Regions from separate parts of the Homo sapiens genome. Here region 1 is linked to region 2. The links come from fine-mapping of genetic effects on gene expression. A gene starts in region 2. The other region holds a variant in brackets. All regions are shown on one strand. Distances are from middle to middle. Region 1 overlaps CLSPN (claspin). Region 2 holds the start of AGO1 (argonaute RISC component 1).

The links. PIP is the estimated chance that this variant, and not a neighbour inherited with it, causes the effect.
Region 1: its variant is fine-mapped to the expression of AGO1 in whole blood (TOPMed, PIP above 0.99).

What each region holds. Positions count from the first base shown.
Region 1 is chr1:35,723,273-35,735,167 of GRCh38, reverse strand. CLSPN (claspin) reads left to right here. Exons shown (of 25, transcript NM_022111.4): 25 at 1-3,056. Among named protein-coding and RNA genes, the nearest start is that of CLSPN-AS1, 10 kb to the left of the region's middle. RefSeq lists a silencer at 9,227-9,410. The variant A/G (reference allele first, on the strand shown) is at 3,545.
Region 2 is chr1:35,876,234-35,888,996 of GRCh38, reverse strand. AGO1 (argonaute RISC component 1) reads right to left here and starts at 5,788. Exons shown (of 19, transcript NM_012199.5): 1 at 5,551-5,788; 2 at 387-570. The coding sequence starts at 5,575. RefSeq lists enhancers at 1,879-1,938, 2,576-3,215 and a silencer at 5,566-6,025.

The DNA of each region.
Region 1 (11,895 bases), 150 kb after region 2:
TGGGACTGAATTCTCAATTTGAAGCACTGTTGTTCAAAGATCTCCCTTCTGGGTCTGACAAGAAGAAACATAACCCTTATTTATTGCATTCTTCTGGCTTACATACATTGCCCTCACTAATCAATGGACATTTCAGCATTTCATTACTAATTTTGAGAGAAGGCCACCATGGAATTTAATAAAAATATTATTGAAGAGAATTGCCATCATTCTCCATTTTCCCTGAACTACCACAAGCTTCTCAGAATTTTAGACAAATGTTTTTCCCCTCAGAACTGAGCATCAGTGCTGCTTTGGAAAAACATTCCATGTGAATACTGTGGTTTCAGTGTCAGGACCTGTACTTGGGCAGTTGGAAGAGAGTGTGCCAGTTTTTTACTGGGAGATGGGAACACCAATTTAATTGATGCAATTAGGTTGTAGGTTTTTTACAGTTTTTCTTTTCTTTTCTTTTTCTTTTTCTTTTCTTTTCTTTTCTTTTTTTTTTTTTGAGACATAGGCTGGCTCTGTCACCTAGGCTGGAATACAATGGCATGATCTCGGCTTACTGCAACCTCCGCCTCCTAGGTTCAAGCAATTCTGCCTCGGCCTCCCAAATAGCAGGGATTACAGGCACCTGCCACCACTCCCAGCTAATTTTTTGTATTTTTATTAGAGATGAGGTTTCGCCATGTTGGCCAGGCTGGTCTTGAACTCCTGACCTGAGGTGATCCACCCGTCTCGGCCTCCCAAAGTGCTGGGATTATAGGCATGAGCCACCGCACCCGGCCGGTTTTCTACAGTTTTCTAATACTCAAGATGTTGACTTTGACAATACTTATGTTTGTATACTTGTAATCTTATAATGGGGAAAATGTGTATAAAGATGTTTTAATATGTATGTAGTTTTTCAATAAATCTTAATGCCTTGAAGGGAAGATTTGCTGTCCAGCTTGAATGCTCATTCTTGGGTCAGTGCCTGTCTAACCTTGAGGAGCATTTCATTTTCAGGTTATCTCCATCCCAGGGAAACCCTCTGGGTCTAAACTGAGAAGCTGCTGCAATTGTCCCCTCACTGGCTTCTCAGTCCTAGTGAATTGATCAAGTTAACTTACCAAGTGGTTTGGGTTCAGCTCAGGTGAAGAGGATAATTGAGTTTACATAAATGGTACCTTCTATTATAGCTCTTTGTTTAAAAAACTTATTTTTTAGAGACAGTCTCATTCTGTTGCCCAGGTTAGAGTGCAGTGGCACAATCATAGCTCACTGTACCCTTGAACTCCTGGGCTTCAGCATCCTCCTTCCTCAACCTTTGGAATAGCTGGGCCACATTACAGGCATATGCCACCATGCCCAGCTAATTATTTTATTTTAGTAGAGACAGGGTCTTGCTGTGTTGCCCCAGCTGATCTTGAACTCCTGGCCTCAAGTAATCCTCCCACCTTGGCCTCCCAAAATGCTGGGGTCACAGGCTCAGCCACCATGCCCAGCCTGTTACAGCTTTGATTGGCCTTTCTCTTTAGCTAAGTTTGTATGTACTTCATTTTATCCATGGGTTCAAGATACATGTTTTTGCCTCTTTCTTTGAACTCTCTAAACAGTTCCCAAGGCAAAGTAGCCCTTGCTGGGCAAAAGAGAACTGAGCAGGAAGGCTAGATATTTCTTCCCTCTTGTTTCCCTACATGTCTTTTGAGGAGAGATAGAAAAGACAATTGGAATTGACAACTGAGGATAAGAAAATTCAGCCAGGTCCGGTGGCTCACGCCAGCACTTTAGGAGACTGAGGTGGGTGCATTGCTTGAACTCAGGAGTTCGAGACCAGCCTGGGAAACATGGTGAAATCCCAACTCTAAAAAAAAAAAAAAAAAGAAAAAAAAAAGAAAATTAGTGCCTGAGAAATCCAGGGAGAAAATGGTTTCTGGGCTGGGCGTGGTGGCTTATGCCTGTAATCTCAGCACTTTGGGAGGCTGAGGCAGCTGGATCACCTAAGGTCAGGAGTTGGAGACCAGACTGACCAACAAGGTGAAACCCCGTCTCTACTAAAAATACAAAAATCAGCCAGGCTTGGTGGTGGCAGGTGCCTGTAGTCCCAGCTACTTGGGAGGCTGAGACAAGAGAATTGCTTGAACCTGGGAGGCAGAGGTTGCAGTGAGCCGAGATCACGCCACTGCTCTCCAGCATGGGCGACAGAGTGAGACTCCCTCTCAAAAAAAAAAAGAAAGAAAGAAAATGGTTTCTGATTGAGGCTCCTGGGAGAAAGCACTCTTTGGAGAAAGAAAACTTGAGTCAAACTCTGGGTTACTTTTCCTTATGCCAGGATGGCTGCTATAAAGTAAGCTAAGCCTTGATCTTGGTAACAGGATTGACATGGACAGTTTCAATCTGACCCATATGCCCTTTGCCCAAAGCACTGAGCCAGCAGCATCAGTTATGTTTTAATGAAATTGAAGCCCCAGGACCTGCCACTATGGCTCTGAGGAGGACTCAGCTTCACTAGCTTGGAAATTACATATTTGGAGGGATGAGAGCCCATGAGTGTGGGAGATAGGGTAGGCTCAGTGTCAGTGTTTTTGTTTCTTCCTTGTTCCATACACTTGAGTAGGGATACATGGTATTAACCTCTTTAAACAGGTCTCTAATTTCATCTCATTAATTCACAGTTGCACAGCCATACTAGGGTCTCTTCCATAAACCATAAGATTTTATTCACCAAAGCTCTAGAGACAAGGTACTCAGATCTCTGTGGCATCCCTCATTTTCTCAACTGCTTCTCTACAAACTTCTCCTCACTTTGAGAGTTTCTAATGCTCAGGCTGGGAGACTTTTTAGGGGGTGTTTTTGGTTTTTATCTCCTAGGGTTATGTCTAATCACTCTTGTGGCATCCTGTCCTGGGATTTGTGCTCCTAAGGATAGAGGAGAGTATTTCTGGGAGGAGTGTTCCCATGATACTATTTGATTATGTCATCCTTGAGATGGTATTGTATCTTCTACCCTTATATCCTACTCATCGCCTGGCACACAGCTTGGAATGTAGTGGTGCCTACCACAGTTTGAATAAATAACACTACACCTTTCAGAGCCTCTGTTTATAAAATGAGGATACTAAGTCATGGCTGTCTCAGAGTTGCTGGGGGGCTTCAGTTGGAAAATGTATGTCAGTGCATTATGTCAAGTGCCACTCTGTAAGCATAAGAAATTGCCAGTAGCTCCCAGAAAAAAGAAATTCACCTCCTTTGAGAATGAAAGAAATTACCAGTATCACAATTATATCATATATTGTAGGCCACTTCTGAAAGGCCCATTGTTTCTCAAATATCTCAAACTTAAAATGAAAATGTGATCTTCTCTAAAAACCTGCTCTTCCTCCTGTATTTGCCATTTCAGTAAAAGGTACCTCCATATATCCAGTCACTCAGACTGGAAATCTGGAGAGCATTCTTGACCTGTTCTTTAATCCTGTAATCAGACAATTTCCAAGTTCTGTTATTTCTACTTCCAAATTGCATCTGGAATCAGCTCATTTCTTCCAGCTCTATGGCCAGCCCCCTGGTCCAAGATTCCACA[A/G]TTTCTTTCTAGGGTCCTACCGTAGCCTCCTGACCCCCCCACTTCTGTTTTTGCTTCCTTTTCATCCAATCTGCACAGCAGCCAGAGGCGACCTTTATGTAAATATAATTTGGAGGATGACACTTCACTACTTAAAATCTTTTAATGTCTTCCGCTGCACTCAAAGTTCAAACTTCTCATGGCCGATGCATGACATAGCTCTGCCTCCCAACCTGCTGTCTACTCTTCTTTCTCATGACATGCAGCCTCAGGAGCATCTAAAGTGTCCTCTTTCCCTGGAATGCCCTCCCCTACATCCATCCTCCTTCTTTGTCTGACTAATGCATAATTCTCAAGGTGTTAGCTTAAGCCTAATTTCCTCAGAGAAGCCTTCTCTGACCATTAACACCCCTTTCTTTTTTCTTTCTTTCTTTTTTTTTTTTTTGAGACAGAGTCTCGCCCTGTCGCCCAGGCTGGAATGCAGTGGTACGATCTCGGCTCACTGCAACCTCTGCCTCCCGGGTTCAGGCGATTCTCCTGCCCCAGCCTCCCAAGTAGCTGGGATTACAGGCATGCGCCACTACACCCAGCTAATTTTTGTATTTTCAGTAGAGACGGGGTTTCACTATGTTGGTCAGGCTGGTCTCGAACTCTTGACCTCGTGATCCGCCCGCCTTGGCCTCCCACAGTGCTGGGATTACAGGCATGAGCCACCAAGTCCAGCCTAACACCCCTTTCTTAATTAGGTTACCTTTGTATAAGTTTCCTATTCTTTTTTTTTGAGATGGATTCTCGCTCTGTCGCCCCGGCTGGAGTGAGTGCAGTAGCACGATCTCAGCTCACTGCAACCTTTGTCTCCCCCGTTCAAGCAATTCTGCCTCAGCCTCCCAAGGGGCTGGGGTTACAGGCACGCACCACCACACCCGGCTAATTTTTGTATTTTTGATAGAGACGGGGAAGGTGTTAGCTTAAGCCTAACTTCTTCAGAGAAGCCTTCTCTGACCATTACCACTCCTTTCTTAATTAGGTTACCTCTGTTTGAGTTTCTTGTTCTTTTTTTTTTTTTTTTTTTTTTTTAATATGGATTCTTACTCTGTCACCCAGGCTGGAGTGCAGTGACGTGATCTTGGCTCACTGCAACCTCGGCCTCCCGGGCAATCAATTCTCCTGCCTCAGCCTCCCAAGTAGCTGGGGTTACAGGTGTGCACCACCACATCTGGCTAATTTTTGTGTTTTTAGTGCCCAGCTAATTTTTGTATTTTTAGTAGAGACGGGGTTTCACCATGTTGGCCAGGCTGATCTCGAACTCCTGACCTCAAGTGATCCAGCTACCTCAGGCTCCCAAAGTGCTGGGATTATAGGCATGAGCCACCACACCCAGCCTTAGGTTTCCCATTCTTTTGGGTCTGTCATCATGATGTGTTACTTTAATGTTCGTTGAGGCTTGCTTTCCCTACTAGACTGTAAGTGCTGTGAAAACAGAGCATATCCGTTTTGTTGAAAAATGTATGCTTTGGGTAGCACCATGCCTGGCACATAAAATAATTCAATGAATTTTTTGAGCAATGAGTGATGGGAGGCCTGGAAGAGCTAATGGTGAAAAGCATAGAGCTGAATTATATACAGAGGAGCTTTCTAGTGCAGGACAGAATAGAGGTGTAGAGCTTTAGTCCTTGCTCTTTCTGCAGCTTGTAAGCATCATGACTTTGGGTAAGTCAGTCTCTTTTTTCCTCAACTGGAAAATGGGGCTCATGTGAAATGACTTGGTTTAGCTCACAGGGTATGGTTAGGATCAAAGGTACAAATTAATGTGAAGTGAATGTACATATTTAAGAGGCTGCACTAATGCAGGCTAACTCACTGCTGAGGAATGGGTAGAGCTGAGTGGGAAGGAGAAGCCAAGCCCCAACAAAGCTCCATAGTCCACCATTGGTGGCTAGCTATGTGCTGAGACTTGTTATAGCAGTAGAAATGGAGGCCTGTGTGTATGCCTGGACTCCAGTGAACTGGGGAGATAGACGTGGCTTGTGTATGGCTGGTGTCACCTCAGATTTTACCTTTTGAGACCAAGGTGCCTGGTTTCTGTCCCCAGTAGTTTTATTGTCTTGGTCTGTACCATCCACGTCCTTCCCATCCCCTCTTTTTGTCCTCTCTCCTCTCACCTTAAAGGTTTTTCATTTTCAGTTTATTGATTTAGTTCTACCCTGTGGTGGGATTCATAATGGGAAAAGGGAGTTTGAAGTAGCTACAGCCTAAGGGTGATTGGAAGGAGTTGGGGTGGACACCTGAGTTCCTTCCCTTCATTTTAGAGAGAACCGTAGTCCGCGGAATTCTTGATGGCTGGTGGGCTAGATGTAGGGTTGAAGAGGCAGCTCCCAGCTCCAGGCTGGAGAATTATTGCCTAGTCCAAGGGGTAGAAAGTGCTGAGGCAGGGTTGGGAGTGAGCCGTGGTTTGGGTTTTTTGGCCCTCATCTCTTTTTCTCAGAGGCTGAAGGAAGGAAAAAGGCTGACTGCCCACCCTTCTGTTTGTTTGTCTTGTCTAATTTAACTTACGTTATTTATCAAAAAGACAGGTTATTTGGAAAACCAGATGGACCTAGGCAAAAATCATCTGGGTTTTCCAAACGTGAAAAATTAGGTTCTGGGGGCCCAGCAGGAAAGGCGTGTGTGTGTGTGTGTGTGTGTGTGTGTGTGTGTGTGTGTGTGTGTGTGTGTGTGTGTGTTTGAGGGGAGGGTGAGGTTGAGTGAATGTCTCTGTAGTTAGACCCAGAAATTGTTCCATGACTTCCAAGCATACTCCCTCCTTCATTTTCCTTCAAGTTCTTTATGATTAGAATCTAAATGAGAAAATTAAAATCTTCATGTTGGTTGCTGGATGTCTTAATTGACCAAGGATTAGAACCCATCAGGGCTATAGAAGAACAGCAGCTGACAGTTTTCTCTATCTTTCCAGCCCTCAGTCCCTTACACAGAGTGGGCAGGTTAGTGAGAGGTGCAGGGTACTGAGAGTTTTCTGAAACAGAAACCTGTGCTTCTTGTCCCTTCAATGTTATTGTTCCAAAGAGTTGCAGCAAATATGGAGGTTAGACATTAGGGAAGAACTTATCATCAACTTTCTGATGATCAAATGGCTAAAAGAACACTGAGGATCCAGGGCTGTCTCTCCATTGACTATCCAGGGAAGGAGCTAGCCCAGTTTTCTTTTGGGCAATGGTGGCTTGCTCTGTAGCTACAACCAGGAATTTGTAAAACTTGTGGTTTTGGGCCAGGCATGGTGGCACATGCCTGTAATCCCAGCACTTTGGGAGGTTGAGGTGGGGGGTTTGCTTGAACTCAGGGGTTTGAGACCAGCCTGGGCAAAATGGCGAAACCCCATCTCTACAAAAAATACAAAAATTAGCTGTGCATGGTGGCATGCACCTGTGGTTCCAACTACTTGGGAGGCTGAGGTAGGAAATCACTTGAGCCTGGAGGTTGTGGCTGCAATGAGCCAAAACTGCAGCATTGCATTCCAGTCTGGGTGACAGAGTGAGACTGCCTCAAAAGAAAAAAAAAAAAAAAAAAAAAGCTTGTGGTTTTGTTACCTTGAGCAGCAACATTTTTAGGAAGGAATTAAAGCAGGAGGCTATTGAGGCATAGCTCTTGGCTGCCATAGAGGAAATGTTCTGGCTGAAAGCAGAAAGCAAGCCATCCAGTTCATACACATATGCACACACACAGAAGACAGCCAAGACCCTTTCTGGCCTGAGAAATCTTTGGCGGCAGCAATAGCACTTGTCCCATTGTGAGTGGCATTTTTTTCAAAGTGTCATTGGACTGTGAAAGCTACTTAATAACTTGATCTCATCTGAATAATCTGAGTTAATACTAGCTTCACAGTTGTGAGGATTAAATAAAAAAAAATTGTAAAGTGTCTGCCTCAAGGCCTGGCACAGAGTAAATCTCAACAAATGCTCGTTGAATGAATGAATCCATGAATCTGAGCATTAAGGCCCCCCTCACCGTTTCCAAGGATCAGTGCATAACAGCCCCGGTAACTGAGACTTGTAGACTGTCCCAACTGAGCCTGCAGCCTGAGGCATGATCTAAACCTGCTGTTCCTTTGACAAATATTTGATGAGTTATGGTGTGGAGGGTGGACCCTTCCATGAAGGCCTTGTTGGCCTAGCTGTTGGAAGCACTATGCAGACAGTCTTCCAGGGTGGGAATTGCCTCAGAGAGCACCTTGCCCAAGGTCAAGGATAGCCCACATTCAATGGCAACAGGTGTGTAACGGCCTGGCCTTCTTAGCTTATTTTGGGTCAACTCTGAAGGGCCATTCTAGCTTCAGAGCTCCCTGTGGGGTTGGCTGAGGCTGTCACTGGCTTGTCTTGTAGATCAGCCTCTTCCTCTGGCCACTCCTGCTCATTCTCATTCTTCCACAGCTGTTGATCCCAAAGGAGGTTCTTAATAAACATCCAGCACATTAAACAGTCTCAGAGTTGGCTTCCTGGGAAATCCAAGCTATGAATGCACTAGTCCTGGTGGCCAAGCCTTTAGAACAACAAAGAACGGAGACTCCTTTGCAATGGATTTCCAGCGTTGGAGGTGTGGATACTGTCTCTTTATGCCCACCAGAGGGCAGCAGCATCCTAGCCACCTGCCCTTCTGAGGCTCCAGGAGTGGGCTTGAAGCCTTTTCCCCGGCAACTTCACGCCCCACACCAGTATTGGGCAGGATCACCTCCCTTAGGGTGTTCACCCTCCTGACTAAAACAACAAAACTTTCTTAAACTGTCCAGGCCTTAGTTTTGTTAGTCTCAAGCTCCTGTACCACCATCACTGAAGGCCAATCAGTCTTCCTACTGTGCCCCTTCCCCTGCTCCTCGTCCGGCAAGCTCCGTGCCTGGGATCCCCCACCTCTCACACTTACCACCCACAATAGATTTGTTTTCTGTGTGACAAGGTAATTACAAGCTTGGGGCCAGTAGGCCCAGGGGCCAGTCTGAGGATGGTCACTTCATTCTGGCTCTCCCTGTTCTGCTAACGGTATTGATTTTCAGTTTTATTTATTATGATGATGTGTGTGTGTGATCTGGCCCTGGTGACATGACATATGGAGGCAAGAGGGCGAGAGCAAATTTCCTTTTGTCACAATTTGACTTCTTGAAACCGCACCCCCACCACCACCACCCAGCATTGTTTATTTACAGGTTTTAGCATCTTTGCTTACCTGTCTTCATTCTGTCCCCTCATCCCCAAAGATTTCTAAGAGATTCTTCTGGGAATTGGAGCCAGATGGATGTGACTACAAGAAGGAGGAAAGGGTCTGGGAAGAGGAGTGACAGCAGCAAGCATACTACCTTTTGTTAGCAGCCATTAACTCATCCAGCAAACATTTACTACATTCCCATCACCTGTCAGTTACTTCTAGGCTAAGCTCCCCAACTCCCTGCTGGGGGCCATCCTGGAGACAGGTTTTGCTATGCGCTTTTTTTTTTTTTTTTTTTTTTTGTCTGCATCTGTTTCTATGGGTGTGTGAGGAAAACCTGGCCAGAAAGCTTTGAGAGAGTGAGATTGAGTTTGGGTGCAACCAACTCAAAGAACGATGCTTGCCTGAATTTAAGGCTACTTAAGGCCTCCCGTAATGTAGTCTACTTCCTTACGAGGAAGAGGAAGGGCAAGCTTGAGGCAAAACATTACAAGTGGGAGGGGGCACTCTGAACTGCAATGATTGCCGTGGGAATCAGCTGAGGCTGAGGGCGATTTGTGGGGCCATGTTTCCCCAGCCTGTCTTCTCTGTGCGTGCCAGGAGAATGAATAAATCATTGTTCAGGGGCGGGATGCAGCTGCCGAGCTCCTCCCCTCGGCACATGCCCCAACTCCAGCTCCTCCATTGAGGGCTGCTGGAGCAGAGCGGTTTATACACCCAGCTCCCCAAATCCTATTGAGGCCTCCCCCTCCGCACGAGCCACCGGCTCCAAGCCCATTCAGGCTGGCCCTTTGTGCTGGGGGTTAAGTGGTTACATGTGGGGGGCACCCAGAAAGGAACTGTCAGGCCTTGAAAGGCTGTGCTGATACAGTGCCCTCCTACTGATGAATGGGGTGGGTGGAGGAGAGGTGGGCGGCCGGAGGGTGGGGTGGGGGAGAGGGCATGGGGATTATGGAGCCCACAGAGGCAGCTGCTAGGAAGGGGGTGGAACAGGCACCCCCTTCTCTCTTTCCTCCTTCACTTCAGCTTCTCCGTCTAGCTTACTCCCTCTGTTGTGGGCACTGGATGATCAAGAGCCTTGGGACCTTGGATTTGGCTTTTCTGATGTCCTGGTGACCGCTTGAGTGCACTGGAGAGAAAGAATTTATATTACCTTTCATTCTTCCAGCAGCTCCGAAAAGACCTGTTTCTCCCTTTTCCCTTGGAAGGGGTGGGTGAGAAGGGGAACAGTGTTGGGGACAGGGGGAGGATTCATTTCCTAGGTTCATCTGGTGCAGTGGATTTGCAGCTGTGCCCTGCCGAACTTTTAAAAGCTTCTCTGAAGTTCCCTCGGAGCCCTTAGGTGGAGGGTTTAGGGGAAGACAGATCTCAAACTGGATATATTGGAAAGATTTTGTTGAGGAAAAAGAAATTACTTCAAGGCTCTAAAAATGCTTTAAAACTTCTAATTGAATGTACCGCCTTGTCATTTTACAGCTGGGAAAACAGCCAAAATGGAAGATAGGGGAATGGGCATATTTTACCTAAGGTAAACACATAGTAATTTCTTGATAGACTAAAGAGGCACTTTACCTTTAAGAAGCAGTAGAGAAATGGATGAACAAAACAAGTAGGTCATCAGCTTCCTAGGCCTTCCTTTCCCAAGATGAACCAATTCTGGGGAATAATGTTCGTTCCAATCTGCCTTAATGGCTCTTTGGCATGTCAAAGGTCCTCTGGGGTTGTGCCTGGTCTTGGGAGCCCAAGTGACAATGTTCACCACTATGTTATTGAACAATTTTTAAGGCATATTATTTTATTTAGCCCAAAAAGGTTAAAATGATTTGATTTGCCTAAGTTCCCAAAGCCATGTGGGGAAGTTGACAGATGATGTGACCTCAGGAAGAGAGAAGAAAGCAGGTTAGCAACGTAGTTTGTAATCCAGGATCGTGCTTTGTTCTGATATGGAAACTCTGAGGGCTTCCTCAGTTACTTCCCTGCTGTCCCCAGGATGGAGCCCAAGCTCCTTGGGATGGTGTCAAGAACTTTCACAACTGGGCCAACTTTATCTTCTAGCCTCACCTTACCTCCATTTCCCACCGAGCTCCAGCCACACTGGCCTACGGGGTGTTTCCTGAACTCACTCTGAAAATGCAGTCTCCTATGCCTTCTCTTGCTTTCTCTTGGTGAGCTCTTATTCATCCCTCAAGGCCTGGCTCAAATATCACCTCTGTGCTAGCTGGGTTTAGTGGCTCATGCCTGTAATCCCAGAATGTTGGGAGGCCAAGGTGGGAGGATCACTTAAGGTTGGGAGTTCGAGACCAGCCTGGGTAACATAGCAAGACTCCCATCTCTTAAAATAAAAAAAATCACCTCTGTGAAGCCTTTCCTTACCCTTTTCTGGGCTTACTACTTTTGCCTCCTGGCTCTGTTGCAGGGCCCATTACATTGTTATAGCCCACTCTTCTGTCTATTCCTTTTCTTTGAGACAGGGTCTGGCTCTGTCACCCAGGCTAGAGTGCCGTGGTGTGATCTTGGCTCACTGCAACCTCTGCCTCCCAAGTTCAAGCAGTTCTCGTGCCTCAGCCTCCCAAGTAGCTGGGATTACAGGCGTGTGCCACCATGCCCGGCTAATTTTTGTATTTTTAGTAGAGACGGGGTTTCACCATGTTGATCAGGCTGGTCTCAAACTCCTAGCCTCCAGTGATCTGTCCGCTTCGGCCTCCCAAAGTGCTGGAATTACAGGCATGAGCCAACACACCATGACTTCTGTTTCCCTTTCTAAACAAGGAGCTCCCCAAGACCACGACCAGTTCTGATTCTGCTCTGAATTCCCAACACAGTACCTGGCACAAAGTAAGCACTCTGTAACTGTATGATACATGTAAATGAATGGGTGGGAAGGGACAAGGTCTTTGAAGCTGAAACACCTTGATCTTACCCACCCCTTTCTTCCTGAGAATACTGATATTGAGAAATTATCCACCTATGAATAACCCTTAGGCCTGTCCTATTTCCTGGATGAGAAATTCCTCTCATCTTCTCTGGTCTCCTTGCCTGACACCCCAGGCCCTGGGACCTGGATCTGGCTACTCACTGCTAGCCTCTCTTGGCTCTGACATCTGTTTGCCAAGAGGCTTACCCGCTGTCCATCATTGGGTCTTGATGGCATGGCCTTTTGCAAAGCCCTGTTCAGGCTGATA
Region 2 (12,763 bases):
GTCCCATACCTTTAACCTCTCCCTCTTTACTAGCTCCTTCTCCTTAATCTGTAAACATACCCATATCTCATTCTTTAAAACTCTTTATTCATTCAACTAATATTGAAATGTAGTAGGTACTGTACTTATTTCTTAACTCAATGTAGTTAGATTAACTAGCTCAACTACTTTCTGCTGAAATTGCTCTGGCAAAAGCCACTAATAATCTTCCAATAGCGAAGTCCAATTGGACTATTTTTCAGCATTTACCCGACGTGGCATCTCCCGTTCAAAAACTTCCTTAGATTTGGTGATACTACCCTCTACTGGTTTTTCTTTTACCTTTCTGGCCCCTCTTTCAAGGTTGGTGTCTTTCAGATTTGGTGGCTTAGGTGTGCATCACTTACCGGTTGACTCTACGGGGACACTTATCCGGCTTGATGTCCACCTCGTAGTGGTACACGTCGATCTTAGGGATGTCCACCTCAAAGTAATTGGCCAGGAGCTTGATTGGTTTCCCCACAGTGCCAATGCCAGGCCGGCGAGGTGCCTGGAACACCTGCTGCAGGGGGGGCAGGTAAGCGCCCGCAGCTACAAGACAAAGAGGCTGGTGAGGGTAAAGTCTGGCAATCTCCTAACTACTCTTATCAGAGGAGGAACAAGGCCTCCCAGAACAGGAACACGAGAGTATAGAGAATGCCTCTTTCCTGCTACCCAACCCAGCCAAGGGCTTCCAGGGGACATCTCAAGCTCATCTGTGTTTTTTCTCTTTTTTCTTTTTTAATCTCTCTCCAGTTAGGAAAATTATCCTTATTGTCTATTTTTAATTCATTAAGTTAATATATAATAAGTTCCTATTGCATGTTAAGCAGAGAGACTAAATCTGGCTCCTAGTAACAAAACCCTTTCTTTCTTCTAGTAGAGTAAGACACTTGCCTCCACCAGGTATCTAGCAGACCAAGAATTTCTATTCTCTGCCAGCCAGATGCTCACTCCATTCGCCACCATGCTGAATACAAAATGGCATAACCTTGATGTTCCTTTATAGGTGGGCAGGAATAAGATCCAGACAAGGCCAGGCTGGAGAGGGCAGGGTCAGTGTTTGAGGCAGAATTAAGGCAACTGAATGGCGAGAGTTGGAGACAGGGAAAAGGAGAAAAGGCTCAAAGGACAGAGTTTGGAGACTAAGGAAAAGAGAAAGGGGGTTGGAGAAGAGGACAGAGCTGGAGGTCACAAAAGAAAAAGGCCAGGAGAAAGAGAAGGCTGGAGTCAAGGGGTGGGGCAAAAGAGGTTAGGGTTGGAAGCTCAGGCAGGAAGAAACAAAGCAGCAACTGGGGAGACAATGATAAAAAAAAAAGCTTGAATAAAGAAAGAACTAACGGGTTTGGGAAGAAGAGGTGGCAATTAGAATGCTGGAGAAGAGACACTGGCTCTGGGAAGAACACAAGATTCTCTCCATGCCCCACAGATCCTTCCACACAGAAGGTCCAGACAGCAGCAGAAGAGATCAATTTCAAGACAGAGGAGGCCCTTGGGAAAGGGATAGGGTAAGGCCAGATCCAGCTACTTTACCCTCTTTTGCCAGTCTGGCTGCTGTCTCCAGTCTTATTTTCTAGCTTGGGGGGAAGAGAGAAAAAAAGGGAATAATATGCTGCTATTGTTCTTGGCAGTAGAGAACTAGCCCAGGTGGGAGAAGAGAGGGATAAACCAGCCCAGAACCTCCCATTATCAGACTTCTGCTTTCACAGTCAGACAAGCTGGGGGGATGGGGCATACCCTCAGCTGGGGGTCAGGAAGAGGTCAGAACCATTCATGGGAGGGGCAGCTTCCCAGAGCTAAGCTGCTCTGTTTCCCTCTAACCACCTGTCCAAGCCCAGTCCCACTCTGCAGACAGGGAAATGAAGGCCCAGCCTGGATGGAAAAGGTCTTCAGAACTCAGCTACATGGGGAAGGGAAAACCTATCTACTAGCACCTGGCTGCCTACCTCAGAAAGTGCTGGACAGAAATTGCACACAAGCTCACGGACAGACAGACACACATCCCCATCACACACATCCAAACACACACTTAGACCTTGGCAATTTACACTTACACACATATCCTTCACTGCCCTAGACTGAGTTCTTCAAAGGCAGGGACTATATCTGCCTTGGTCACTGTTTAATTTCCAGTGTCTGACACACACACAGGAAGTATTCAACATACTGATATGAAATGAATGAACAAACATATCCATAGACACACCACAAAAACACACAAGCACACACAGCACACAGACACACGAACACCTGCAATTGCCCAGAAACAATTATAAACACTACACAAGACAAATATGCACGTTTGTGGGTGTAGCCAGTAAGAGACATCCTTTCCCTCCCCAAGTTCTTATATTTCATTCACCTTCTTCCCCTCCCAGACTGAATAATCATTTGGGGCCTTCGGAGAAAGATAACTCCTAGAGCTGGGGGGCTAGTTAGAAATGATGGGGGATGGGACAGACACTCTAGCCTCAAAGCCTTCTCTTCCCCAGAAACCCGACTACATACCACACATAGCCTTAGAGCACCTTCCTCTCCAAAGAGGCTTTGGGAAAACAGGGGAGCCCACACCCCCACTTCATCTCCAAACTAGGAAAGACAGCAGGAAGCAGGAACCTCTCTCCCATTACATCCCCCTGAAAGCCTAACAACAGCACTGTCTCCTCCCCGCCCCCCTTACCCCAGCTTTTAGTCTGAGAAAGGGAGACACTTCCCTACAGACCCAGACAGGGACAGACGGCCACTTTGTGATGCAGATGAGGGCCCCAGCACAGAGGACAAAGCTTGGGCCTAGGGGGAAAGGGGCGGGACCCTTCTCTTCAGACAAAAGCAAGGAGGGAGGGGCCCTGAAAAGGACACTCCCCCTCCCCCATCCCCAAGGAGCCCAGAGAAGGAAAAGTAACAGAGCTGAAAACCCTGGCTCAGGATTCCTTTCTTGCAGTTCTGAGGCCCACACACCTCCCAAGGAGCCAGACTGCCTATTCAAAAGACACAAATTCAAGGTTAGGTTAGGTTAGGTTAGCTGGTGGGCAAGCAAAGACTAACAAGCCAATCTCTCCAAAAAGGATCTGTTCCATGTGAGTATACACTTTATTAAATATCCACATACGTGCTTAACCATTTATGTTCACACTTGAATGTGATTTGATTTAATTAATAAACATGTATTCTGTGCCAGGGCCTATACACTAGGCACTTGCTAGTTCTACAAATAAACCAGACACTGCTTCTACCCTCAGGGAGCACCCAGTCCACTGTATGTGCTTGGAACACACCTGAGCACAGAAGGCAGACCTGGGCATAAGCCCAGTGAGGCTAGCAACAATGCTTTAGTTTTTGGGGGGTTTTTTGTTGTTGTTTTTTACACAACGCTTTAGTTTTGTGTATTATGTCCTCAGGCCACCTTGGGACACCACTCTAACTTCTTATAAGAGAACAGTCCGGGCCTAGGAAGGAGGCAGTTATGGGGTCCCTCAATTTGCAGCTTCCAGACTGAATCTCAATTATACCCTTTACTGAGGCAAAGCCTGTCCTATTCGGCTTTTCCCAAGGCTTTGGCTGACTCCAAACAGCAGGTTCTAGCTCCTTTCCTATAAGCTTATTTTTTGTAACAAATTTTTAAAAAGTCAATTTTTCATCACTCCAGAGCCTATTAGGAATTCATCAGGATAAAAATCATTAGTCTAGAATGGGTACCAGCAACCAGCAATCCATGTGGACCTCAATGACCTACCCCACTACTCTAGTTCATGGGTTGTTGGAAATAGTCCCCAGCCTTGAAAAACAGAAGTTCCTGGGATGGAGAGAGGGTCCTGACAGAGAGGAAGTACTCAAGTCAGTTGCTCCCTGTGCTTATCCTTACGACTACACAGTCTATACAAGGCTGGTTGTTAAGAGGGAAAACAGTCACTAAGTACTTAGAGATCACTAAATGGATAACTTGAGTGAGGTCGTAGGAGCTATTTCCTTGGGAGGGTGGGAGGGAGTTAGGTCTGCTACAAAAAAAACAAAATAATTCCACTAGGAAAGTAATGAAGTTCATGGCCTAAATGGAAATTTGATTCCCATCCCCAGACCAAATGTAAGGAAGTGGTGAGAGATGACCTGAAGGATTCCCAGGTCCAGGCTCCTCGTCCCATCACAGGGTAAGACACTTAAGACACAAGAGGTATCACCACCCCACAGCCCATCCTAAGGACTCCAGTTTTCTTGAGGCAATCCTGCCTCAGTTTATCCTCTGTTCCTATGTCTTTTCCTCCTCATTGCCTGCAAATAAGAAGTTAAGGCTATCACCTAGGCCTCACCAGGATGAAGGCTATAAACTCCCCCATCCTCCAACGTGTTTGTAGGGTTTAGATCTTGGCTCTAAAGACAGCCCTGACAGTTTCTGGGGAGTGGGGAGAGGAAAACGGAAAGATATCCAGTGGAAGATAGGAGCCATGAAAATATTAAGAAATATTAGAATAAATGTTATAAATGTAGAGTGTAACCTTAACAGACAATTCAATGGAAAATCTTTGGATTAAAAGCCCCCATCACTACTCAGTATTGGAGCAGAAACTTGCAAACCAAGCAGACAACTCCTTCCAGGTAGCCCCTGCCCTGTCCTTGATTCCTCCGTAACCAATACCTTTCCTAAGGCCTATCTTCAGGAGGACCCACCCCCAGAACCCATCGCTTCGGTCCCAGTCTTTCCTGTGGCAGAAAAATGCACTTTGGCAGCTTCCCTCAACCCATTCTTAGCAAACTGTGACTGAGGGCCAAGTGTAAGAGCCCCTAAAATGGGGGAGGGGACCATAACCATTTGCACACTGCCAGCATAACCTAAGAGAGAATGCACCCCATCAGCGCGCTCCTTTTTCCAAGCCAAACGGGGCGGGGCGGGGGGGTGTGGAGAGGTGGGGGTATTCGGACAGCCACGCCCCCACCACGTCGGGCAGCCCCTTCCAGCTGCCACCTCCGCGCATGCTCTGGAGCCTCCGCTCCGACTCCCCAGACCCACGGGGGGTAATCCCGGGACTGGGTCCCCACCCACCGCCCCCTGACCCTCGCCCTCGCGTCAGGCCCAGTGGGGCGGAGCTCACAGTCCAGCTCTGGCGCCTTCTCCCAAGAGACATTAGCCTATTCCAGCCCAGCGGAGCCCCCGCCCCCGGCATGCGGTAGCTCCAGGCCCATCTGTGTCGCCCCCTCCTCTCCTGGACACCTGGAGCCCGTCCCCTGCCACCTGCCGGGCCTCTCCGTAGGCCTCCACGGATGTCTGGGAGTCCTTCCGTGCGTGCAGGCCCTTCTCCCAGATTACTTCCAACCCGCAGGACTGTATACAGCCTCCTTGGACAAACAGCCCCCATCTCAGGGCTCTCTTCACATGGTTCTCCCCCGGAACTGCACACAGCCTCCTTCAAACTGGGCCCCCATCGTGGGAGAGCCCTTCTCCTCACTCAGGAGCGCTTCCATCACTTGGAAACCACGCTTTTCATGCGGGATCCCCCAGTCCTTGGAGCATGCACCGTTCCCCCTCCTGGGGACCCTTACCTGCTCCCGAGGGTCCCGCTTCCATCCCATATACCCGTGCGGAGGTCAGGCGGCCCGGAGACTGTGAAGTCCAGCGTGAGGGGCCTAGGTACCCCACACTCTCGCTGCTCGGGATCCCGGGCCGGGCTCGGCTCCCCTACCAAGCCCGGCCGCTCGCGCCGCCGCCCCCGCAGCCTCCGTTGCCGCCGCCGCGGAGCCTGCAGCAGCTCCCACTGCGAGCGCCCGGCCAGCTGCCAGTGCGCAGGCGCGACCGCCGGGCCCAGGGGGCGGACCGGAACGAGTCAAGCGGGGCGCTCCGACGGCAACAAAGGCCAATGGAGAGGGGCGGGGGCACCGGGGACCCAAGGCAGCGGCCCCTGGCGGTCACCCGTCGCCATGCAGCCCGGCGGGAGGGCGCCAGTAGAGGTGCCTTGGAACCGCGCAGTGGTATAAGTGGGGCAGGGCGAAGGGACATCCCGCCACAGCAGCCTTCAGCCCTGTGTCTTTTCCCCAAATAGGTCCCTCCAAACCTACACACAGCCCCCGCCTGTCGCACCGAGCTGCGCGCACACATTATGGGAACCCCACTTCATTCCCAGACCCCCTGGCACTCCAGCGCCCAGGGGCCCTGCCTCCCACCTCTCCTCCCAATCACCCTCATCCTTCAAGCCTTGGCTGCAAAGCGACTGCCTCCACGAAGTCTTTCTCCGTCCCTAGTCACTGAACTCACTGACGCCACCCCCTCTTCCACGCCATGTGCTGGACGCTGAGACCACAGATAAGTAGAGACGCGGCCTACCCTGGAAGATGTCACAGTTTGAACTTAAGTGCAGCTACAGAGCTCTATCCGCCGGACCTGGGAAGCACCTGCCTCCACTTTCTCATCTACAGTTCATGCCTGAACTGTCAATCAGCTTCTGCCCTCATCACGTCACTTAAATGACTTTTGGGGTTGACATCCAAAGGATACTTTTCAATTATTTCTCTGCAGCATCTGTCACTGTGCCTCTACTTCCCTTCTGAGCCTTCTACTTGGCTGCGGCATCTTCTGCAGTCTCCTATTGCCTAAGTCCTTTTCAGTCTTTCTAAAGGGCCCCTTTTGCTTTTGCCTCATTAACTGTTCACTGTGGTTCCAAACCCAGCTCTCTTCTCATTCCACTCTCCCCTTAAAGGTCTCATCCACTCTTACGGCCCAACTATCCTTCCAAATCTCTGTTTCCAACCATGTCTCATACTCACATTTCCAAGTGTTTGCTGGACAGCTCCACCTGGATATCCTACCAGCACTTCAAATTTAAGAAGTCCAAACCAAACACTTTATCTTTCACTCACAAACATACTTGCCCTGTGCTTCCTATCTCAGCGAACAGCACCTTCATGTCAGAAATGACAGTTCCTCTATCCCTTGTTCTTTCCATCTATTCAGCTGTTCACCACGTCTTGACATGTTTACCTTCTGAACTGCTCTCACATGATTCACTGCCATTCTGATGGTTTCTTATGCTGGTGCAGACCCTTATCATATCTTGCTAGACGTATCACAACCACTTCCTTGCTAGTCTCAAAGTTTCTGGGAACTCCCATTCTCCCTCCTATTCGGTCTGGTGCAGTGATAGGCGGGGTAAGAGACCCAGCTCAAACATCACTTTCCCATAAACTCACAAATTTTTGATGCCTGCTTTACACTAGATGCCATGCAGAGGCTGGGAACTTAAGGGATGGACCATAACCGGTCCTTACTCATGAGGAGATTAATTTCTGACACTTATACCATGCCTTGCTTCTAGAGGTTCTCAAACAGCAACCATCAGAATCACCTGGAAAGCTTGTTAAAACTTGGATTGGTGGCTGGGCGCAGTGGCTCACGCCTGTAATCCCAGCACTTTGGGAGGCCAAGGCGGGTGGATCACCTGAGGTCAGGAGTTCAAGACCAGCCTAGCCAACATAGTGAAGTCTCGTCTCTACTAAAAATACAAAAAATTAGCCAGGTGTTGTGGCAGACACCTGTAATCCCAGCTACTCAGGAGGCTAAGGCAGGAGAATAGCTTGAACCGGGGAGGGGGAGGTTGCAGTGAGCTGAGATCACGCCATTGTACTTCAGCCTGGGCAACAAGAGTGAAACTCCGTCTCAAAAAAAAACAAAAACCAAAAAACAAAACTTGGATTGGTAAGCCCTGCCTCTAGAGTTTTCGATTCAGTAGGTGTTGGGTGGGACCCAAAAATGTGCATTTCTAACAAGTTTCCAGATAAGGCTGATGATGCTGCCGATCTGGGGACTATGAGAATTACTGCTTTACATACGAAGTAGAGGTGAAGAACAAAGACTCTGGAGCCAGACTGTCTCGGTTTCAATATTGGCCCTGCATTTACTAGACATGTAATAGTAGGCACATTATTTAACTTCTCCGTGTCTCAATTTCCTCCTCTGTAAAATGGCAGTGGTAATAGTACCTACCTCATTCGGTTGTTGTGAAGATTAAATGAGTTAATACATAAAAACACTTCAGTGGCCGGGCACAGTGGTTCACGCCTGTAATCTCAGCACTTTGGGAGACCAAGGCAGGCAGATCACCTGAGGTCAGGAGTTCGAGACCAGCCTGGCCAACATGGTGAAACCCCATCTACACTAAAAATACAAAAATTAGCTGAGCATAATGGCACACGCCTGTAGTCCCAGCTCCTCGGGAGGCTGAGGCACAAGAATCGCTTGAACCTGGGAGGCAGAGGTTGCAGTGAGCTGAGATCATGCCACTGCACTCCAGCCTGGGTGACAAAGCAAGACTCCATCTCAAAAAACAAAAAACAAAACGAAACAAAAACACTTTAGAACAGTGCCTAAAAAGAATGCAAGCAAAATATCAGCTGCTATCATAATCATTACTTGCCTCTCACACTATATTCTTTTTTTGAGACAGGGTCTTACTCTGTTACCCAGGCTGTAGTGCAGCTGCACAATCTGGACTCTGCAGTCTCCACCTCTCAGGCGCAAGTAATTCTCCCACCTCAGTCTCCCGAGTTGCTGAGACTACAGGTGCATGCCACCATGCCTGACTTTTTATTTATTTATTTACTTACTTATTGTAGAGATGAGGGTCTCGCTATATTGCCCAGGCTGGTCTTGAACTCCTGAGCTCAAGCAATCCCCCTGCCTCAGCCTCCCAAAGACTCTTCTTATGGAATGCTGAGGTCCCAGCTCAGTTACACTAGGGCAAAGGTCCCAGCTCAGTTACACCAGGGCAAAGGTGAGCTACCACACCTGGCTCCACACTACCATCTAAGTTCCTTAAAAACAGGGACAATATCAGATACACTGCTGTCCTCCTTTAGTGCTTGGCACAAGCTGTGCCTAGAATGATCAGTAAATTTGGGTTTACCTGAATCAACAAGATGGCATCAAAAAGCACTCAGAAAAACTCTCAAAAAACTCTCAAAGGTCTCAGAAAGACCTCTGCCCTGATGTAACTGAGCTGGAACCTCAGCATTCCATAAGAAGAGTCTGACTCCCCTGTTCTAAATACTCAACCTCATACTTAACTTTGTGCAAAGGCAGTAGTCACTATTCTGACCCATCTCCAAAGCAGCTAGTGAAGTCAAGCCTGGCCCCAGCCTCTCAAAGTCCTTCTGTACAGTGCACCTATAATCAGGGACTTCACTCTCAGCTAGGCAAAGTGGCAGAGTAAAATGGAAATCCAGATAGCATTTTGCTTTTTTTTTTTTTTTTTTTTTTTTTTTTGAGACAGAACCTCACTCTGTCGCCCAGGCTGGAGTGCAGGGGCACAATCTTGGGTCACTGCAGCCTCTGCCTCCCAACTTCAAGCAATTCTCGTGCCTCTGCCTCCCGAGTAGCTGGGGTGACAGGCACATGCCACCACACCCAGCTAATTTTTGCGCCATGTTGGCCAGGCTGGTCTCAAACTCCTGACCTCAGGTGATCCGCCCACCTCGGCCTCCCAAAATGCTGGGATTACAGGAGTGAGCCACTGCGCCCAGCTGCATTTTACTTTTTTTTATTTTTTTTTGAGATGGAGTTTTGCTCTGGTTGCCCAGGCTGGAGTGCAATGGCACGATCTTGGCTCACAGTAACTTCCACCTCCCGGGTTCAAGCGATTCTCCTGCCTCAGCCTCCCAAGTAGCTGGGATTGCAGGCATGCACCACCACACCTGGCTAATTTTGTATTTTTAATATAGACAGGGTTTCTCCATGTTGGTCAGGCTGGTCCAAACTTCTGACCTCAGGTGATCCACCCGCCTCGGCCTCCCAAAGTGCTGGGATTACAGGCATAAGCCACCGTGCTCAGCCCCTGCATTTTACTTTTTTATGCTGATAAACTTCTTTCAGTAATCCCTGATATATGTTCCACCAAACCTATTGGCTCCTTCTGTTTCCATTTCATCCTTGCATCTCAGTCCATAGCTAACTCACACCTAAGGGCCTCTGCTGTGTGGGCCAGAGTCTTCTACTTAGATATCTTCTCTATACAAAGAATTTCCTGGAGCCAATATAATAAGAATGGCCTGAGAAAAGTTTGCATCCCAATCTACATTTTCCTCTTTTAATGTTAAAAAAAAAAACAACTGAGGAAAAAAAGAAATCAATGTAGTATAATTAACAGATTAAATAAGTAAAAGGATTCAAAAAAATAACCAAAAATCTGTAGCATTCACTGCTGGTACCAGTAATAACTAATTATGATAAAATATCCAATTCAAAATTCTTGGAAATAAACTTCATGAGATGTATGTGATTTGTATGAGAAAATCTATAAGAACCAATAAGAAGACATACAAAATAACCTGAGTTAAGAAGAGAAAGAGGCCGAGTTCCTGGACGGAAAATAATGTAATAATGTCTATTGGACATTTGCTACTCCAGCCTCCAAGTTCTGAGGATGAGCATCAGGTATCCCTACCCATCCCCATGTAGTGTGCCCCAGAAATTCAAAGATACAAGGATGTAATTGAGCCAGTCCATACCGCTAAGAAGAAACAAATACATATATCAGTGCTGTCCAACAGGAGTATCATATGAGCTAAATATGTAATTTTAGAATTTCTTTTAGCTATGTTATAAAAATTAAAAAGGAGCCGGGCGTGGTGGCTCACACCTGTAATCCCAGCACTGTGGGAGGCCGAGCCGGGAGGATCATGAGATCAGGAGATTGAGACTGTCCTGGCTAACAAGTTGAAACCCCATCTCTACTAAAAATACAAAAAAAATTAGCCAGGCATGGTGGTGGGTGCCTAAAGTCCCAGCTGCTCGGGAGGCTGAGGCAGGAGAATGGCGTGAATCCGGGAGGCAGAGATTGCAATAAGCCGAGACTGCACCACTGCACTCCAGCCTGGGTGACAGAGCAAGACTCCATCTCAAAAAATAAATAAATAAATAAATAAAAATAAAAAGGAAACAGGTGAAATTAATTTTAGTAATATATTTAACCCCCCAAATCAACATAGCAATATAAAAATTACTAATATTGGGCCGGGTGCAGTGGCTCACCCCTGTAATCCCAGCACTTTGGGAAGGCGAGGTGGGCAGATCATGAGGTCAGGAGTTCAGGACCAGCCTGGCCAATATGGTGAGACCCCATCTCTACTAAAAATACAAAAATTAGCTGGGCGTGGTGGCGCTCGCCTGCTACTCAGCTACTGGGGAGGCTGAGGCAGAAGAATCACTTGAACTCAGGGGGCAGAGGTTGCAGTGAGCCGAGATCATGCCACTGAACTCCAGCCTGGGTGACAAAGCAAGACTCCTTCTCAAAAAAAAAAATTACTAATATTTTATATTTTTATGTAAGTCTGAAATTCAGTGTGTATTTTACACATAACACATCTCAATTCAGACTAGCCACATTTCAAATGCTTAATACATGTGGTTAGTGGCCACTGTACTGGACAGTATAGATGATAATTTCAATGAAACTTTAAGTGTAATGACAGAGGCACATGGGCGACATGGGAACTAAGAGGAGGTATGTCTAATCTAGTCTGGGATAATCAGGGTAGGTTACATAGAAGAGATATCTACTTAAACAGGCCTGTGAGGATGAGCAGGAATTAGCCAGGCAAAGGAAAGATGGGAGAAAGGTGTACTAAGCAGCATTAACAGAAAGTATGAAGTGAGAAATAGCACATTACACCAGGAACTATCAGTAGTAATATTCTTGCATAAAAATGGAAGGAAGAAGCACTGAGAAAAGAAGCTAGAGAAGTATACCATCACGAAATCTGCCCATTCGCTCCCTAGCCCAAGCCAGGGGAAAGGCAGCAAAGGTGACAGGAGGAGCTGTCCCTGGTTCTGACACTCTATGCAGATTCACGGTTCAGTTTCACCCAGCCTGAAACCGAACTGACCCAGATCAAGCCTATTTTCCTGCATCTTCTCTAGCACACACGAAGGCCCCAAAACCCTAAACTTGGCCTGGCAGAACAGGAAAGCCTAGCAGCTTTGGACAGGCTGCCCTGGATGAGCACAGGCAATAGAGTAAGATCCCCTCTCTACAAAAAATAGAAAAATTAGCCAGGTGTGGAGGAGCATGCCTGCAGTCCCAACTACTCAGGAGGCTGAGGCAGGAGGATCACTTAAGCCCAGCCCAGGTGGTCGAAGCTGCAGTGAACCATGACTGCACCACTGCATTCCAGCCTGGGGGACACAGCCAAAGCCTGTCTCTTAAAAAACAAAATTCTCTATAGCATGCAATACTGTTTGATAGCATTTTACCCACAGTAGAACTTCCCTCAAAATTGGAGTCAATCCTCTCAAACACTGTCACTGCCATATCAACTAGGTTTATGCAATATTCTAAATATATTGTTGACATTTCAACAATGTTCACAGCACTTTCACCAGAGTCAATTTCACCTCAAGAAATCACTTTCTTTGTTCATCCATAAGAAGGATTTCCAGCCGGGCACAGTGGCTCACACCTGTAATCCCAGCACTTTGGGAGGCCGAGGTGGGCGGATCACGAAGTCTGGAGATCAAGACCATCCTGGCTAACACGGTAAAACCCAGTCTCTACTAAAAATACAAAAAATTAGCTGGGCATGGTGGCAGGCGCCTGTAGTCCCAGCTACTCGGGAAGCTGAGGCAGGAGAATGGTGTGAACCCAGTAGGCGGAGCTTGCAGTGAGCCGAGATCGCACCACTGTACTCCAGGCTGGGCAACAGAGTGAGACTCCGTCTCAAAAAAAAAAAAACAAAAAACAAACAAAAAAAAAGGATTTCCTCATCTGTT